Regions from separate parts of the Homo sapiens genome. Here region 1 is linked to region 2. Evidence: fine-mapped QTL for protein levels in blood plasma. A gene starts in region 2. The other region holds a variant in brackets. All regions are shown on one strand. Distances are between the middles of the regions.

Region 1 (9,068 bases), 17 kb before region 2:
CCCAGGTCAGAGGTGCCCCAAGGCCCAAGGCCCATGGCTGAGGCAGTGGGGTGGGGCTGGGGAGACCCATGTCCATCCTTCCAGGGCCCGACCCCAGGCCTGACCCTCTCCATCCTCCTGCCCAGTGTCTTTCCCTGACTCCTGTCTCCTCTTTCCTCAAAGACCAAACCAGATCACAAGGGACTCTCTGGTTTTGGTTTTCAGTTGTCACAAGGTAGTTCACTCACTCTCCAACAGGCCTATTAAGGTCACTTGGGGAGAGAGGGATGTCTCATAATCCCAACTTCCCCTGAACACCTCACACAGCACTCAGCACACAGCTAGGGCTCAAGAAGTACTGGCAGGGATAGAATGAGCCTTGGACTCAGAGGCCAGGCTCCAGCATCTGGCCCTGGCTCTGCCACCAACCCCTGTGTGATCTGGGGAGGCTGCTCCTTCCTCCCTGGGCCTCAGTTTCCTTATCTGTAAAGTGAGGTCAGACAAGGGATGACAAGTCTGCAAGGGATGGCAAATCTTCCTCCACCCAGGGCAGACATAGCCAATCAATCACGAGCCTCGATTTAGCTCAGATCCCTCAGCACAGTGCTCTGGAAAGCCACTGCTGATGGGTTAGAGCTGGCCTGTAAGATGAAAGGTGCTTGCTGTCTGTGGATTTGGTGCTCCCAAAGGGCTTCCTCATCTGGTAAGTTTCCTGAGGTCACATTTTTTTTTTTGAGATGGAATTTCACTATGTTGCCCAGGATAGAGTGCAGTGGTGTGATCTCAGCTCACCACAGCCTCCATCTCCTGGTTCAAGCAATTCTCCTCCCTCAGCCTCCCAAGTAGCTGGGATTACAGGCGTGCACCACCATGCCCAGCTATTTTTTTTTTTTTTTTTTTGTATTTTTAGTAGAAACGGCGGGATTTCACCATATTGGCCAGCCTGGTCTTGAACTCCTGACCTCAGATGATCCACCCACCTCAGCCTCTCAGAGTGCTGGGATTACAGGCAAGAGCCACCTTACCCAGCCTGAGATCACAATTTAATGTAACATTCTCTGAGGCCTACGTGGTGCCTGGCCTTGTTGTGGATCCTGGGGATGTGGAGCTGGTCCACGCCTTAAATGAGCTGAGTCTGCAGGAGGGGAAGGACTTTGGGGCAATGCTATAAGACAAAATAACGGAGGGCATATGGGAGGTACAGAGGCTGCGAGGCCCAGAGGTAGAGGGGATATGGGAACAGAAGCCACGTCAAAACCCGTCTGGAAGGACAATGGATCCACCATTCCATTGCTAGGCAAAACAAGTGGTGGGCACAGAAGGAGTAAAGGCTTAGAGGCTGGAATAAAAAGGGAACAGTGAGCAGTCTGTTAGGCTGGCTCTCAAAAGGACTCTAGAGCGTCCCAGAACAGGGCTGCCCAATGCCCTGTCCAGGGTGCTGAATTCCTTCTAATGAGAACTGAGTGCTGAACTTGGGCCAGGCCAAGGACGGCAGCCAGGGGGTGATGAAGGGCACAAGGCAGCAGGATCTAGATGTAGTCCAGCCACCCCGGTGGTCGTAGGGTTTATTGGGCCACAAGGGAAAGTCACTGGTCCCTGGACTCATCTCCTCCCTCCTCCTCCTCCCCCTCCAGAATGCCATGAAATGCACCTTCTGCTAAGCTGGGTCTGATGGGTATCAATCACTCCTAGTGGCTTTATGTGTTGTGGGCTGGTCACAGGTGGGTACGATATGTGGTATCTGCATTTCCAGGGGGGTCTCAATAGACCACCATGCCTGCAAGGCCCAAAACAATGTGGCAGGTTGGGGAGGAGCTTTAGGAGTGGATGACAGTGATGAGATGCTCCCCTTCCTCTCCCCTCAATTACCATGCTCCTGCCACATCATTCTCCCTGCCTTGTCCTTGTCCTGCCTTCCAGCCAGGCTGAAGGAGGGGCATCGGGGAGGGAGGCCTGGGCATGAGGAAGATGGGTGGCCCAAGGGCAGAACAGGGGAGGGGTTAAAAGGTGGTTTCCGGAGCCCAAGACCCTGAATCACATCACACCCCAGCAGCTGTGTGGCCAGGGTGCATTACTTCCCCTCTCTGAGCCTCAGTTTCTCCATCTGCAAAATGGGGATAATGAGGGTACCTACTTCCCAGTGCTGTTGGGAAGGTCAAGGGTAATAATGTGAGTAAACTGCTTATTAGCACAGTGCCCAGTATAATAAAAATAGCTCACAGTTATTGATGTCTGCTAAACGCTAGGATCTGCTCAAAGCCCTCTACATGCATTTAAGCCACTTCTCACTACAACCCTAAGAGACAAGAGTTCTTATCATTCCTGCTTTAGAGATAAGCAAACTGAGGCACAGGGCAAGTAGAAGACTAGTCTGAGGTCACACAATGGTGAAGATGCAGAACCAAGACTCAAACCAGCATTTGGGTCCCAGAGCCTGAGCACAACACCTTTCTACTCTCCATAGCGGGGAGGGCCCGAGGGGCTGGCTCCAGGGAAGTAGAAGGAACGAGGAGGCCACAAGCACTCCCTTCCTCCCTCCATCCCCAGGTAGGTCTGTGCACCTCCCTTCTCTCTCTCTCTTTTTTTTTTTTTTTTTTTTGACACAGAGTCTTCCTCTGTCGCCCAGGCTGGAGTGCAGTGGTGCGATCTTAGCTCACTGCAAGCTCTGCCTCTCGGGTTCTGGCCATTCTCCTGCCTCAGCCTCCCGAGTAGCTGGGACTACAGGTGCCCACCACCACACCCGGCTAATTTTTTTGTATTTTTAGTAGAGATGGGGTTTCACCATGTTAGCCAGGATGGTCTCAATCTCCTGACCTCGTGATCCGCCCGCCTCGGCCTCCCAAAGTGCTGGGATTACAGGCATGAGCCAGTGCGCCCGGCCACCTCCCTTCTCTTTAAGTCCAGGATGATGAGCAGGGCCCTGGGGGCAGACACCTCAGCCCTGTCCCATAGCTGGGTCACTGGGGAAGTCACTGGATCCCCAAGAGCTTCACTTGCCTCCTCTGTAAAATGGAACAACACTTAGAGCCTCTATTGGACACAGCCTCTCTTCCGGCAGCTCCATGTCTGGCTTGTCTTTATATTCCCAGAGCCCAGCCTAGCACACGGTAGGTACTTAATGTGTGCTGAATATGCAGAGCAGGAGAATGAGCAGGAGAATGAAAGAGCCCAGTGTGGAGTGGGTGCTTCTGGAAGGGTGGCCCTCCCCCAGCCAGCCCTCCCTGCCAGCCCTGCCTACCTTGTCGTTGATCAGCAGCTCCATGGGCTCATGGCCCGCCTCTAGCAGTACAATCTCGTTGGCCTGCCCGGGCACTGAGTAGGAGAAGGGGGTGCCCTGGCCGGTGCCGCTGGACCTGGACC[G/A]CAGCCACATGCAGGCGGTGAATGCGTAGAGCTCGGGCAGAGCCTTCCGCACGCGGGCGTACATGTAGTTGTTACGGATGGGGATGCTGATCTTGAAGGCATCTGGAGGACTGTAGGCTGAGGACCCTGAGGGTGGGCAAGGCAGACATGGTGGAGGTCGGTGGACACCGAAAAGGGTGGGGTGGACAGGGCACACTTCAGAAAGATGGCTAACAGCTCCCAGGCACCTGCTGCATGCCCAGTGCCTTCAGGGCTCTCTCTGCTCCACCTCTGTGTTGAGGGGTGTGATTAAAGTGCAGGGGCTCTGGACCTTAGATGTCCTGAGACCAAATCTCGTCTCCCCCACTTCCCAGCCACGTGACCGTCAACAAATTAAACTTGTTGGGAGACCCGGGGTAGACAGGCCAGAGGCAGGGCTGAGGAGGGCTGGAGGTTGCTTCTCCTGTTCCTGTGCTCCACCTAGGATGCTGGCCCTGAGCCACCAGACCTGTCCCTCCCCTGCAGCTGTGCCCCTGCGATGGCCCCTCCATTCTGAAATTTGCTCCTCACCACTGTTTTCAAGAAGTAGCTTGAGGCCTGCCTCCTCCAGGAAGCAGCTTGGATATTCTTTCTTTTCTTTTCTTTTTCTTTTTTTCTTTCTTTTTTTTTTTTTTTTTGAGACGGAGTTTCCCTCTGTTGCCCAGCTCACTGCGACCTTCACCTCCCAGGCTCAAGCAATTCTCCTGCCCCAGCCTCCCGAGTAGCTGGGATTACAGGTATGCACCACCACACCCAGCTAATTTTTGCATTTTTAGTAGAAATGGGGTTTTGCCATGATGGGCAGGCTGGCCTTGAACTCCTGACCTCAGGTGATCCGCCCACCTCAACCTCCCAAAGTGTCGGGATAACAGGCATGAGCCACCATGCCTGGGCCTGGATTTTCTTCTCCTGAACCCCTGTTCCCCATGTAAGCTGGTCCCAGCTAACTGCTCACCATTTCTCCTGTTCTCCCCAACTTGTCTGTAAGCCTCTTAAGGGTGGTCTTCACAAGAATTGAAAGCTGAAAGGTCTTTGAGAGCTCATGAGTCCTAAACCCCTATTTCTCAGATGAGGAAAACTGAGGCCTGGGGAAGGAAGTGAACTTCTGAGGTCACAGAGCAAGCCAGAGACAGATATGCAACCAGGAGCCAGGTCTCCTTATGCTTATACCTGTACCCTGCCCATTATGTTCCTTTGACCCCTTGGCAGTGCCAGGCACAAGTGTTAAACAAAATCCTGACCAAGTCATTGAAAATGCTATTTTGTGGGTGGTTAAATGTATGGTTGTGGAGTCAGACCTTGTTTGAGGTCCAGACCCGCCACTTTTGTCTGTGTGACCTTGAGCATGTCACTTGACTTCTCTGAGCTTCGGTCTTCTCATCTGTGAAAACTGTGGATTAAATCAGCTGATGTATCAAGTACTTAGCCCACTCCCAGGACACAGTAAGTGCCAGAAAATGAGATCTGTTAATAATGTTGATAATGATAACAATATCCCCCAATGATTCTCTCCACTGTGTGTTCCACAGCCTCCTCCCCACCCTCCAGTCTGTCGATGTTAGCCTCCGGGGAGCATGGATATATTTTTTGAATGGCTCTGTCATCCTGAGGACCCCTCCAATGCCCTCTGCAGGACCCAGGACCCACCGTGCTCCAGCTCAGCCACACGACCCTGCAGGACGTCCAACTCCTTTTCCACTTCCTGCCTCTGCCGGCGGCTGCTGTGGCTGAGGGCCACACGCTCCTTCTCCAGTGCCAGCACCTGGGCCAGCAGCTGCCCCTCCAGCTGGTCCATCTTGGAGTGTAGGCCGGTGGGCACAGCAGAGACTGGGGCTGGGGCAGCTGAGAGGTTCACACGGGCTGGAAGCTCCTGCTGTTCACAGGGCAGAGAAACAGAAATCAACTGAGGGGAGGAAGGACAGGCTGGGAACACTCAGATGCCTACCGCCCCTGCTCAGTGACCCCAGGGGAGCCTCAGCTTCCCCAGTATGCAAAATGGGAATGACAATGGCCAACATCAGGCAACAGATGCATCCTGGGTCCCTGGCAGGCTCTGTTCCTGGTGCTGGCACATGACGGCGAGCAGCAGGCAGAGCTGGCCCCGGCCCTCAAGGACAGCTCAGGCTGTGGTGGGGGTGTGGGGCGTGGCCATGAGTGCTGTGAAGGTCCCCCAGGTGGTTTCAGGGTGCAGCTGGGGCTGAACGCCCCACCCTAGTCCTTCATAGCAGCAAGGCTAGACACTGATAGGCTGGTAAAGGGGCGGACCATCTTAGTCTTCATTCCCTCACTCAGCAAGCTTCTCTAGAACGGTCCTTGGCAAAAGGCTCTGTATGGCCACTGGGCCCACTCAGGGCGTGAAACAGGGACTTCTGGAGCAGGGCCCCGGTGGCTTGACCATACCAGGGTGACAGGTGGTTGAAATCACATACTTTGGAGTCAGACAGCCCAGGGTTCAAAACCAGCTCGGTAACCAATCTGCTATGTGACTCTGAGAAAATATCCTGACTTCTCTGAACTTGTTTACTCAAAAGAGAGCTGCACCTATTTGGAGAGTTGTGGGGAGGACTAAGGATTAAATATCAATAAACAGAGCCTGCTTATTGCAATTGCTGTCTAGGGCAGGGTGTTCCAGGGTAGGCTCTGACATCCCCCATCCAGCCCGGGATGAGGTCTAAGTGTTCAGAGTTCCCCATGACATGCCTGTCTTATCTTAAGACCCCAAGGGCAGCAGAACTGGGGCAGGAGCTGGGAGGGTTTCCTTCCCCTTCTCCTGCTGGAAGAAGGCCCCTCTGGGGTGGAGGAACGCAGGTGAGGCCGCAGGTCCAGACTCTTCAAGGGGACAGTCTGTGGCAGACATGTCACAGAAATGTCAGTAGGAGATTAATAATTCAATGAGCTGCTAGGAGCTAAATTAAACCTTCACCATCCTCCACCATCCTCCTGGATTCCCCCTCCTCCATGGTCCCCGCTACCAGGCCTGATGCTTGCGAACTCCCCAGGGGCCTGGGAAGTTTTTGCTCAGTCAGTTCCTTGCTCCCAGGCTTAGGCCCCAGACACGAACTCATTGCATTCTGTGATTCAGTCACTGAGCAAACATTCAGAGGGCACCCCCATTGTGCTGGGCACTGCCCCAGATGCTGAAGTTGTGGCTGGAGGCAAAACAGAAAACCAAGAACCCCACCTTTCCTCAGTTTCCTAAGCTGCGAGGGGATGGCCTTGCAGCCTGGGACAAGTATAGAATCCCCTGTCCAGCCTCACTGGCCCAGCCAATGGCCTTGTCAGTCATTTGCTGGGTGACACTGGACACTGCTGGTGGCTGCTGTGACTGAGGGCCGCGTGTTCCTTCTGAGCTGTGCACTCCTCCTTAACTTCTCTGAGCCTGTTTTCTAGCCATGGGACAAGGGGAGAAGTGCGTCCCCTGCATCAGAGTGCTGGGGGCAAAGGACCACTGCCATGCTCAGTGCCCGAGACTTGGGAGCTGCCAGTGTGGACAGCAATGTGACCTCATTTTGAGGAGTTGCAGGAACCGGCCCTCGGCTCTGCCACTGCCCCGTGAGAGTAGGGACAGGTGGGCTGACACTCCGAGATCATTTTTCCCCTTCTATAAGATGGAGACACGGAATGCTCAGCCTCCAGGGCTGGCCAGCATTAAATGATGGCGTGTAAGGGAAGTGCCCAGAGCCTGGCCCACAGTGGGTGCCGGGGGCATGGTTTTGGGTGCATGGGGTAGGTGGGAAGACTGAATGGGACGCTCTTGCTGCCGGCTGAGCCTTAGCAGACACCTTGCAAACATTCCCTCTCTGAATCCACTTAACATGCCAGTGTCCCCATTTCAGGGGCAGGAAAACTAGGGTGAGTTAACTAAGATCACACCAGGAGCAGGAGCAGAGCTGGGATCTGAGCCTAGCAGTCTGGCTCGCCCGCCCCCTCTGCATCACTCGCCACGCAGCCTCTCTTGGCATCTGCCAAGCGGCCTCTCCAGAAGCCCTATTCCCTCTCTGTCCCACCTGTCCCTTGGCTCCCATGGGAAAGGTGAGGTTGCTTCACAGGGCAGGGGGTCTGGTGCCACTCACACTCAGCAACCCCCCTCTTCTGCTGGCAGTGGGAGGGGCTGAGGATCAACCTCTCCATTCCAGGCTGTAAGATGGGGCAACAGACACAAGTCACTGTGGTCGTCCAGGCTGGCTCTGGAAAGGGACCCATGAAAGCAGCGGGAGAGGGGGGACTCTGGCCACCATTATCCACCCCCCCCACCTCTTGTGTAAGAGGTCACGGCCTCCCAGCCACGCAGATGCCTACTTGGCCCACGAGGATGGGGTGGAGGCCAGGTGAAGGTGGGCATGGGATGGGCGAGGAGCCTTACAGTGCACTCCCCGCTTACATTCATCTTTGCTTTCCCGAGGGCTCCTTCTGTCAAGGTGCCTATAAACCCTGACTCTGGTGCAGACTAACCACAAAGCCTTGGTTTCCCCTCCTCTAAAACGGGAACAGGCTGGGCATGGTGGCTCATGTGTGTAATCCCAGCACTTTGGGAGGCCAAGACAGGCGCTTGAGCCCTGGAGTTCGAGACCAGCCTGGGCAACATGGCGAAACCCCATCTCTACAAGAAATACAAAGATTAGCCAGGCATGGTGGTGCATGCCTGTGGCCCCAGCCACTTGGGTGGCTGAGGCAGGAGGATTGCTTAAGCCCAGGAGGTTGAGGCTGCGGTGAGTCATGATCATACCACTGCACTCCAGCCTGAGCAACAGAGCGAGACAAAAAAAAGTGTGTGTGGGGTGAAACAGACTTCCTCTTGTTCATTCCCAGGACAGATGGAAGGATGGGAGGACAAGTGACAGGCCCTCATGGACTATAAAAGCATAATGCCAACTGTGGGGCTTGACTACATTAGCTGATGGGGCGCTCATTACCTCCAGAGCCTTCAGGTGACACTGGATGGCCCACAGGGTGACAGGGTCAGCCACCCACTGCATTCGAGATGGCTGGACTTCCAGGAAGCCTTGGACTGAGGCAATCAGCTCAAGGGGCGCATTTCATCTCAGGGCTGGAAGGGCGGGCTGGGGCAGGGTGTCCCTGGTCCCAGGTACTGTTCTGTCCTCAGTTCTCCACCCGCTCTGTGCCAAGCTTGAGGCCAGAGGGGCATGCGGGAGTGAGGCTGTGCACCGGGCCCATCATAGGCACTTGGCATGTGTTTACTCATGAATCCTCGCAGCTGCTCGCTGAGGCTGGCACTCTTCGTATCCCCATTTCACAGATGGGAAACCAAGGCAGGAGTCGTTTTGAATTGTCTATAGCAATGGGGCTGGGCCAAACCGATACCCCTGGAGCCAGCATCTCCTCTCTCCAGCAAAGGGAGAGAGGGAGGAAGACTTGCCAGGAAGAACAGAGGGAGGAAGATCTGCCAGCAAGAACAGGGAGTCGAGGCTATTTAAACAGACGCTGTTTGGAGGAGAAAACGTGCGGGCTGAGGGGGTGTGCGCTCAAGCTGTTCTTTTGTCAGAGCCACTGGCTCTGCAGCGGCCAGGAAGGCCATGGAGGAGGTGGGCTCGCCGGATCGTGTGTGAGTCCCTCCCCGTCCCAGTGTCTGAATCAGAAGAACACGACTCCCGCACCCCCACTTCCCATCTGCTGTGGGCGCAGGCTGTGCCGCGTGGGCTCCCGGCCCGATGCCAACTGGGCCCCTCACCTAAGATGATGGAGGGAATGAT
Region 2 (9,068 bases):
CTGCAAGCGTGTACAGAGATGAGGCCAATCAGAACTGGGGGGAGAGGGAGGGGCCAAGGATGGTTTCTCAGGGCACATGGAGGTACCTGGTTCAAGCTGAAACACAGTGTGGTTAGGGGGCTGATGGGACAACCAGAGAGAGATGCTCAGGAGGCCGATGTGTTGATGGGTCTGGAGCTTGGGAAGGAAACCTGGGCTGGACACTGAGTTTGGTTTGGGGCCCCTCCGTGGAATGGGTGTGGGAAGCCTCAGGGCATGGCTGAGTGTACCCAGGGAAAGTGAGGGCCAAGACGGGCACATGCCTTAAAGGAGGAGGACCCTGCAAGGAGACAGAGGCAGCAGACAGAGGGAGGAGGAGGGCTGCTGTGAGAGGCGGCTGGAAGCCCAGGGCATGGAGACCTGCAAGAGGGGATGATCAGCAGGGTCAGGTGTCAGAGAGGGTTCCCCCAAGATAAGGACTGAGAAGTCCTCATTTATCATCTTGGGGACATTAGCAAGAGCACCTTCAGTGTATCCTGGGAGGGAAAGGAGACCCTGAAAATCTGGGCACTTTGAGGATACTGAATGAGAAGAGAGGGGAGAGATTGGACAGTGGCTAACGGGTGCATGGGACTCCGCTGAGCCAAGTGGTCTCACCCTGTGTCTGCTGTGCTCCAGCTCCAGCCCCAGCCCCTCCCAGAGGCCCCCAAAAGACTAGCTGTGGCTGTTGCCACGCTCAGAAAGCAGACCTGGTGGCCAAGCAGGGCCCCGCCCTTCTCTGTCTGTGGCTGCTGCACTCAGAAAAGAGGAAAAGGTATACATGGGGAAGCCAGGGCTCCCCCAGCCTGGAAGGCTGACCTGTTGCCAAATTCCAGCTGCCAGGATCCCCCCAACCTCAGCGGGCTAACCGGAAGGGAGGCCACCCTGCCAAATGCTGCAGGTGCTGGGGGCACAGGTCCAAGGCAGGTCCAAGCCTGCCAGCCCCAGACGTGGGAGGAGCCACCTGTGCCATCTGGGCGTGGGGGCAGGGGCTATGGCAGGCACGAGGAAGTTTATTCAATGAAAGTCAAAAATTGTTTTTTACATGACTAAAACCTGTTGCCTAAAACCTGTTTGTTCCTATTTTGAGTTTTGGCTGTATTTTAAAAATGAGTAATATTATAGCTTAATGATAAAAATAGCCATCACTCAAATTGACTGAACATACCTGTGTGCCAGGCACTATTCTTGGCCTTTCATATAAAGTACTTAATCCTCCTAATATCCCAGTGAGGTAGGTGCTATTACTATCCCCATTTTACAGGCGAGAAAACTAAGACTTCCCTTCATTGCATACTTTCACCTTTTTCCTGATTATTTTCCTGCTCTTGGTTCTCTCATCCTAGAAATCCCCCAGAGCTGGAGTCGGGGAAGAGGTGGGTATGGGCCCGGCTTTTCTCCTGCCTCTGCCACCTCTCTTAGGACGTTTCTGAGCTGAGTTTTCTCATCCGTAAGGTGAGGGGTTGGCTGCAATGGCTGACTGGCTGCACTCTGACACCCTGTGGGGAGGGTGCTGACACCAGTACAGACGTCCTGGAGGGCTGTCAGACCACGACATCCTCAGCCTTGTGAGTGGGCATCACCAGTGCTGCTTGCCCAGGATTTAACTTAAAAAGCCCCGGGAGTAAGGGGTCCCTGCATTTACTCCCCGCCTCTCTCCTCCCTCCAACTTGCCTGCTGCACTCCACCTGGGTGGAGGTAGCAGAGGGGGCAGCGCGGGCTTTGGCCTCTTTCTCTCTCTTCCTTCCACAGATCTGATTTTGTTGCTTAACCCCCTTCCTTGTGGTCTGGAAGTCAGGCCATGGCTGGGGTAGTGAATGTGTCCCGGATGTTTGTCCTGCCCAGTCTGTCTGCCTTGCACTTCTGGGAGCCCCAAATTCATTCTTACAGGGAGGAAGGTGGCCATGGGACTCCAGGGGGGAAATGACTGGCCCAGGGTCACATGAGAGCCAAGAGTGGGTTCCCCCATGCTGGACCCCTTGTGTCTGACCCCAAGCCTGAGTCAGGAAAGCCTGGAAAAGTGAGTGGAGGAGGAGGAGCTCGGGGGGCCCTGTTCTCCATTCAGCCCCCACCCAAGAGCTGTGGGCTTCCAGGTGTGTGAGGCTGGGCGCCTGGCACCTGAGCTCCTGCGGTTTGGGTCATAGTCTGAGCCAGAGTGGGAGATTCAGGGTAGGGAGGTGGTGAGGGGCACCCAGGTTTGTCTTATAGGGCACTCTGTTCCCGGCTCTGTGTAATGAGGGGAGGACCCCAAGTCCTTTGGACAGCGCATCCATCTCCTGGCCATAAAGTGTGAGCGTGGAGCTGGGCTGATTTGGGGGTGTCCGGAAGAAGGAAATGAAAGGGACATTTAATGAGGTCCTAGTACGTGCCAAGCATTTTCACACACCTACATTTGATTCAATTTCCACTACAAGTGGACACTGTTATACCTATTTTACAGACACAGAAACTGAGGCTCAGAGAGGTGCCTGGAGACGGAAAAGGGTGGGGAGCGAATCTTTCTGGCGCGCCCTCTGTGCCTCAGTCACCGTGCCAGACGCCTGCCCGCGTTCCCTATCGAAATCCCCCCGCCTCGCCAGCGAGGAAGGCGCGATCGTCCCCGGAACACAGACGGGAGACCGGAGGCTCGGGGACCGCCGGACGACCGCGGCCGGGCGGCCCCTCACACCACCCGGGCGGCTCCCCCGACGGCGCGCGGCGCTCACCTCCAGGCGGTCGATGCGGTCCCGCAGGGCGCGCACGGCGTCCTCCAGCTCCAGAATGAGCGCAGGCGAGTCCCAGGGCCCGTCGGCCATGGTGTCGCGGCGGGGCCCGGCGCCCTGGAGGCCGCGCGGCAGGCCGCTCTCGCAGCGGCCCAGCTTGCCGGTGAGCTCACGGATGGTGTCCTGGTCGGCGCGGATGCGCGCCTCCTGCTGCAGCGCCGTCTGGCGCAGCTGCTCGGCCGTGCTCTGCAGCAGCAGCAGCTCTTCGCGCTCGCCCGGCGCAGCGCCCGCCGCGTCCCCCTGCTGGGCCCCCGACGGGCAGGCAGCAGCCAGCGGCGTGCACAGGAAGCGGCTGAACAGGGGCCCGGGCGGCAGCGGGTGCGCGCTGGCCGCGGGTGCCCCGGGCAGCGCGGGGGGCCCGGCTGAACCGCCCGCGCCGTGCAGCGCGCTCAGGCTCCGCTGCGGGCCCGGGGACGCGGCGGCGCCCGAGGCGACCGAAGCATTGTCGGCGCCGCCGGGCAGCGCCCGCGCCGGGCTGGCCGCCAGGGGCACGCTGGCGATGATGCAGATGACGGCACCGAGGAACGCCAGCATGCCCGCGGCCAGCAGCACGGCCAGGAACTTCAGCGTGAGGCGGGCGGCGGGGGCGCCCGAGGCCCCCGGCAGGCGCGGCGGCGGGGTCGGGGCGCGGAGCCCGGGCGCGCTGGGCCGAGCGGGGCAGGCGCGGGAGCCGGAGCCGGAGCCGGAGCCGGAGCCGGAGCTGGAGCTGTCGCCGCGGCCGCTGCTGCCGCCGCTCTGAGCCCGGGCGGCGGGAGGAGGAGAAGACGGCAGGCGGCGGGGAGGGGGAGCGGGCGCGGCGGCCCCGCCCCACTCGCTTCCCCGGGCCGGCCCTGGCCCCGGCCCAGCCCCGCACCCGTTCAGTGCCGGGCGCCCGGCTGGGGGCGCCGCCGGGGATGCGGCGAGGAGCGAGGGCAGCGCCTGGGACCTTATCTCGCCGCGGTCACAGCGCAGGGGCCGGCGACCCGAGGGCCGCGCGGCGGGGCTCCTGGGTGACCCCCATCCCAGCCCTCCCGTGCTCGGGCCCCCTCCCCAAGCCGGTTATGTTCACATCCACCCGGGAGGGAGCTTTCTTCCGGGTGGGGCTGTGCACTGGGCGCGCCACAAGCTCGGTCGCAATTGAGCCTTGCCGTGGACAGGCTCACAATAGAAATGAGGAAACTGAGACACCTGAGGTCAGGCCTCTGTCCAAGGTCACCGGGTGGCTGCGTTGGAGCCGCCTGCGAGCTTAGGCACGTTTCACCGGACCAGACTGTGGATGGGGCTGGAGTGGGAGCGGTTAGAGGTGGAGAAGAGGCCAGTGTTGGGGGTTGGGGGGAGGCTCGGATTTTGACCTAACTTCTGTTTATACTGTGGCCACCTGCCCGTCACCCCCACCTCCAACCTTCTGAAGGAGCAGAGTTCACTCCCCGCCACCCTCATTACAGAATCTTCCTGTGATCTCAGAGGATGATGGAAATTCTCTCCTCTGAATCCTTGGGGGCTTAGAGCCTCACAGGTCCAGAGAAACCCCCCACCCCCACTGCAGTCTGCCTTCGTTGGCAAGCGGTGCCACGTGCCTGGTGGGCATGTGGACCAGGCCCAGAAGGAACAGCAGGAATGGGAGTGGGCTGTGCTGTGGGGGTGGCAGAGGAGCGTTTTACTTTCTTCTGTCAAAAATGTCTATATATATTTTGTTGAAAATTAACTTTGCAATTAAAAACTTAAAAACAATCCTACTATCCTCCACACTTTATCCCCAGCTCCAATTTTCCATGAGGTCTTTCCTGACCAATACGGATTCCCAGGGCTGGAAGGGCCTTGGGAGGGCTGTGGTTATTCCCAGCTCTGTCTCCCTTCCAAGCCTGCATTTTTGACTTGAAGGGAAAGCGCAAACCAGGATCTCTGGACCACCACGGCTACCACTGTGGTTTCGAGTGTACTTCACATAGCGCTGGTGGTGGGGAGAGACCGGAATGTTTCCCAGGAAGCCACAACCCTGGGGGACGCTCTCCAGCCACGGGGATTTTGTCCAGTGTTCCCAGGCACACGTGCTCCACCTCCCTCTCTCCACACATGTTAGGATGATGTCCACCCTGTTCACCCATCTCTAGGAGCCAGGGATTTTCATCCATACCTGAGTTGTGAAAGAGGAGAGAAGCAAACACAAGCGCTGTATGCCAGGAACCTGAGTGCTGTGTGTGCGTGGATGTGTGCTGGTGCTCACTGAAGTCGTAACCTCAAAACCCAGGGCAGGCAGCTGGGCTTGGAGGAAGCATCTCATGGACAGAGAGATGGGCTGGGCTCTTGGAAGGCAAAGGCCAGCGGTAGGCCCTGCTAAAGTCCTGGGGATGCATGAGACATCGGGACTCCTGGTACATCTACACGTGTGCCGTGAAGACAGAAACACGGAGATAGCATCCCCAGGAGAAACTGTCATAGGAAGTCCAGGGAAGGACAGGAGATGCCAAGAGAGAGGGCTGCTGCCAAGAGCAGCAGAGCCACTGTGACTTGGGCACCAAATGGTGCCACCTTTACCTGAGCTGCCCCCTGAGACTTTGGGGACAGTTTGGATAAATGGGTCCAGAGGCTGGAGTCAAATTGTGTTTAAACTGGTCTGTTGATCTCCTAGAATGACTTTATTTTTTATTTTATTTTATTTTTGAGACAGAGTCTTGCTCTGTCACCCAGGCTGCAGTGCGGTGGCGTGATCTCGGCTCACTGGAACCTCTGCCTTGCGGGTTCAAGCAATTCTCCTGCCTCAGTCTCCCAAGTAGCTGGGACTACAGGTGCACGCCACCACGCCCAGCTAATTTTTGTATTTTTAGTAGAGATGGAGTTTCAATATGTTGGCCAGGCTGGTCTTGAACTCCTGACCTCAGGTGATCCACCTGCCTCGGCCTCCCAAAGTGCTGGGATTACAGGCGTGAGCCATGGCGCCCAGCCTCTCCCTTCTTCCTTGGCCCATCTCTATCCCCAGCATTCAGCATGAAGCCTGCCCAGGGAAGCTTCTCGGTGAATGTTTGCTGAACTAGTTCCTAATGCCACTGCTGGAGGCAGAGGAAGGAGGAGAGGACAGAGAAGTCCCAAAACTCGTCTCTCCTGGGTCCTGGGAGAGACCCCCCTTAATCCTAACACAGGATTCCTCAAGGGATGGGCAGAGAAGTATTCTCAGGGGAACTTCCCTAAAACTGGAATAGTTCCTATATTTTCCCTCTGAATTGTCATGACTCCTAGTTTTTTTTTTTTTAAATTTCTTCACTTTCATTCCATTCTTAGGCCAAGGGAATTCTGCCATATATAACAAATATAGGAATTCATTTTAGAAAATATGTTTTGAGACCTACATTGTGCCAGGCATAGTGCCAAGCATTGGAGAGAGCTGGGAACAAGACAAGCTCACGCAGTTTATATTCCAGTGGGGAGGCAGGCAGTAAACAAATGAATAACTAAGTAAACAAGTTAATTTCCAATAATGATGAGAATGACAAAGAAAAATCTTCAAGTGATGTTATAGAAAGTTACAGGAAGTAGGAAGGGGGAATTGGGAGGTGGGCAGTATTTATAAGGTGGTCAGAAAAGGCCTGCATTGGAGCTCAGACCTAAATGACCTGGGAAACCAGCCATGCAGAAGTCTGGGGAAAGATGGTGTGTTCTAGGCAGAGGGAACCGCTAGTGCAAAGGCCCTGGGGCAGAAAGGAGCGTAATATATTTCAGGAACAGAAGGAACAGAGTGGGGCTAGAGGCAGAGTGAGATGTAGGGGAGGGAGGAAGCTGGACAGGAAGGTGGGGGCCGTGTAGAGATTTACAGGCTCCGGGAAGGGAGTGGGTCTGACTCGAAGCCCAACTGGAGGGCTGAAGCACGGAAGTGATATCACCTGGACTGTGTTTTTAAAAGACCACTCTGGCAGTTGTCTGGAGACTGGGTTACAAAGAGATAACAGAGGGCCGGGAGCGGTGACTCATGCCTGTAATCCCAGCACTTTGGGAGGCCAAGGCGGGTGGATCGTTTGAGGTCAGGAGTTCTAGGCCAGCCTGGCCAACATGGTGAAACCCCGTCTCTACTAAAAATACAAAAATTAGCCAGGTGGTAGTGGTGCGCGCCTGTAATCCCAGCTATTCGGGAGGCTGGGCAAGAGAATCACTTGAGCCTGGGAGGCGGAGGTTGCGGTGAGCCGAGATCACGCCACTGCACTGCAGTCTGGGCGACAGAGACCCTGTCTCAAAAACAAAAACAAACAAACAAAACAAGAGGAAGTAGGGGGGTTACAATTGGAGGGCTATGCCTCCCTCCAGGTGCTTCTCCAAGTAATGGTGACTTGGAATTGGTGGTGGTGGAGAGACGTGGATGAATCTGTTTTACAGGTAGTGTTTGTCAGTTGGGTCCTCCAGGAAGCGGACACTGAGATGGGGTTGGAAGTGCAAGTGCTTTATTGGGGGTGATGTCCTGTGAAAGATAAGAGGGCCAGAAACAGAATCGGGCAGGGAGAACCTCTGACTTCGGTGCTGATCTAACAAAGTGTTGGCCACCCCGACAGGGAGCTCTGGGGCCGAGACTGCCCACGAGGGAGTTTTTGCATCAGGCACAAATGGCCTGTCTCTATGGTGCCCTTTTCACCCTGAGTCATTGGCTGGAAGTTGCCCCAGAAGAGCAAGGCTTCAGCTCAGAAGCTGAGGTGGATCATGAAGTTGGAGAGCGTCTGCTAACTGCCTCACCTGCTGCTGAGTGGCAAAGTTGTTGTTGAATGGAGAGCTAAGGGGGCCCCTCCCTGGCTGCCATGGTCCATTCCTTACACCAAGGTCCAGTTCTCCATACACGGTCAGGAGTAGTCCCTCCAAGGTGCCCGTGGCCTCTCTTCCTTAGGGACACCTGGAAGGGGGAGGTTAGTGGGAAGAACACCAGTGTCCGCTACTGCAGTTGGCCTCAGGCTGCAAGAGGCATCATGGATTCTTCCCCTGTCCATCTAATCATTCTCCCAGTCATTGTCTCTGCTGATAAAAGGGGAAAGAACATTCTTTCATTCCCCGGAGCCTAGGAAAGCCCGTGGTATTTTCTCAATAATGTTTTTTGAGGCCAGGCATGGTGGCTCACACCTGTAATCCCAGCACTTTGGGAGGCGAAGGCAGGAGAATGTCTTGAGCCCAGGAGTTCAAGACCAGCCCAGGCAACATGGTGAAACCCCGTCTCTGCAAAAAATACAAAAATTACCTGGGTGTGGTGGCACGCACCGGTAGTCCCAGCTACTTGAAAGACCGAGGCAAGAGGATCTCTAGTCCAAGGGGTCGGGGCTGCAGTAAGTTGTGATTGTGCCACTGTACTCCAGCCTGGGTGACAGAGTGAGATGCCGTCTCAATACAAAAATAAAAATAAAAGTTTTTTGAACTGAGATACACTTTTAAAAGGGGGGAGGAGGGAGAAAGAGGAATTGCACAGGGAAGGCCTTTAGACTGTAATAAAGTCATTTCTAAAAGATGGGTGATTGGATGCTAATTAGGTAACTGGCGGTTTCACCAGGCACATGGCAGAGCCAGGATTTGAACACAGGCTTAGGGTGACGAACTCATCCCATCTGGCCTGGAATTTTCCCAGTGTCAGCACTGAAATGCTAGCATCCTGGGAAACCTCTCAGTCCTGGGCAAACACGGACAGTTGGTCACCCTGGCTATCTTCAAACCCATTCTCCCACCACACTGTCTCAGTGCTGGTATGTATCACATAGCAATGAAACACACACGTCTTTCTCTTCCCTCGACCTCCATCCTTCCCTCTCCTCTAGCATCTCCCTCTTTCCCTGCTGCCTGCACACTGTGAGCTCCTCGAGGGCAGGGACCAGCTGCAGCACCCTCCTCTCTGTGACTCCAGGGCTGGCACTCGTGGGTGCTCAAACTCCCAGTGAAGGAGTTTGGGCAGATGGGTGGGATTACAGATGTGAGCCACCGCGCCCGGCCTCAAAAAACATTTATTGAGAAAACGTGTGGTACCTTTTGGGGTGTGCTTGTGAACAAAGAGTTCTTTTCCCCAGGGGGGTTGGTAAAGAGATTGGGGACAAAGAGAGTGTCTGTGTCCATCCTGAAGTCTCCATCTAGGTCCGGTCTCAAGACCTGAGCTGCCTCAGTCTCCTCACCTGTAAGGTGGAGCCAGTGGTACCTATGTATAGGATTGTAATGGGAAGGAAATGAGGGCAGGTGAGATGTGTGTAAAATCTCTCCCAGGGACTCAAGACAGGGACCATTTCCTACCATGCTACTGTGTGTTATCAGGGCAAGGCTCGGTACTTGCTATGCCTTCCTTATTTATTCCTAGCATATACT

Direction of the effects. Alleles are on the strand shown, and positions count from the first base shown. The strength of an association depends on the size of the effect and on how common the allele is.
For the plasma level of the protein whose gene starts at base 3,517 in region 2, allele A in region 1 goes with a lower level than allele G (moderate association).

What was found. PIP is the chance, under the fine-mapping model, that this variant and not a neighbour inherited with it causes the effect. Protein levels are from antibody-based Olink assays in UK Biobank. Linkage for the fine-mapping came from a reference panel and not from the study's own genotypes, which makes the PIPs less certain.
Region 1: its variant is fine-mapped to the plasma level of the NPTXR protein (UK Biobank, PIP above 0.99). The variant lies in the coding sequence of NPTXR. If it changes the protein, the assay may bind it differently, which can mimic a change of level.

Annotation. Positions count from the first base shown.
Region 1 is chr22:38,823,283-38,832,350 of GRCh38, forward strand. It overlaps NPTXR (neuronal pentraxin receptor), which reads right to left. Exons shown (of 5, transcript NM_014293.4): 2 at 5,005-5,230; 3 at 3,218-3,465. Among named protein-coding and RNA genes, the nearest start is that of NPTXR, 16 kb to the right of the region's middle. The variant G/A (reference allele first, on the strand shown) is at 3,340.
Region 2 is chr22:38,840,512-38,849,579 of GRCh38, forward strand. It overlaps NPTXR (neuronal pentraxin receptor), which reads right to left and starts at 3,517. Exons shown (of 5, transcript NM_014293.4): 1 at 2,724-3,517. The coding sequence starts at 3,347. RefSeq lists a silencer at 3,036-3,105.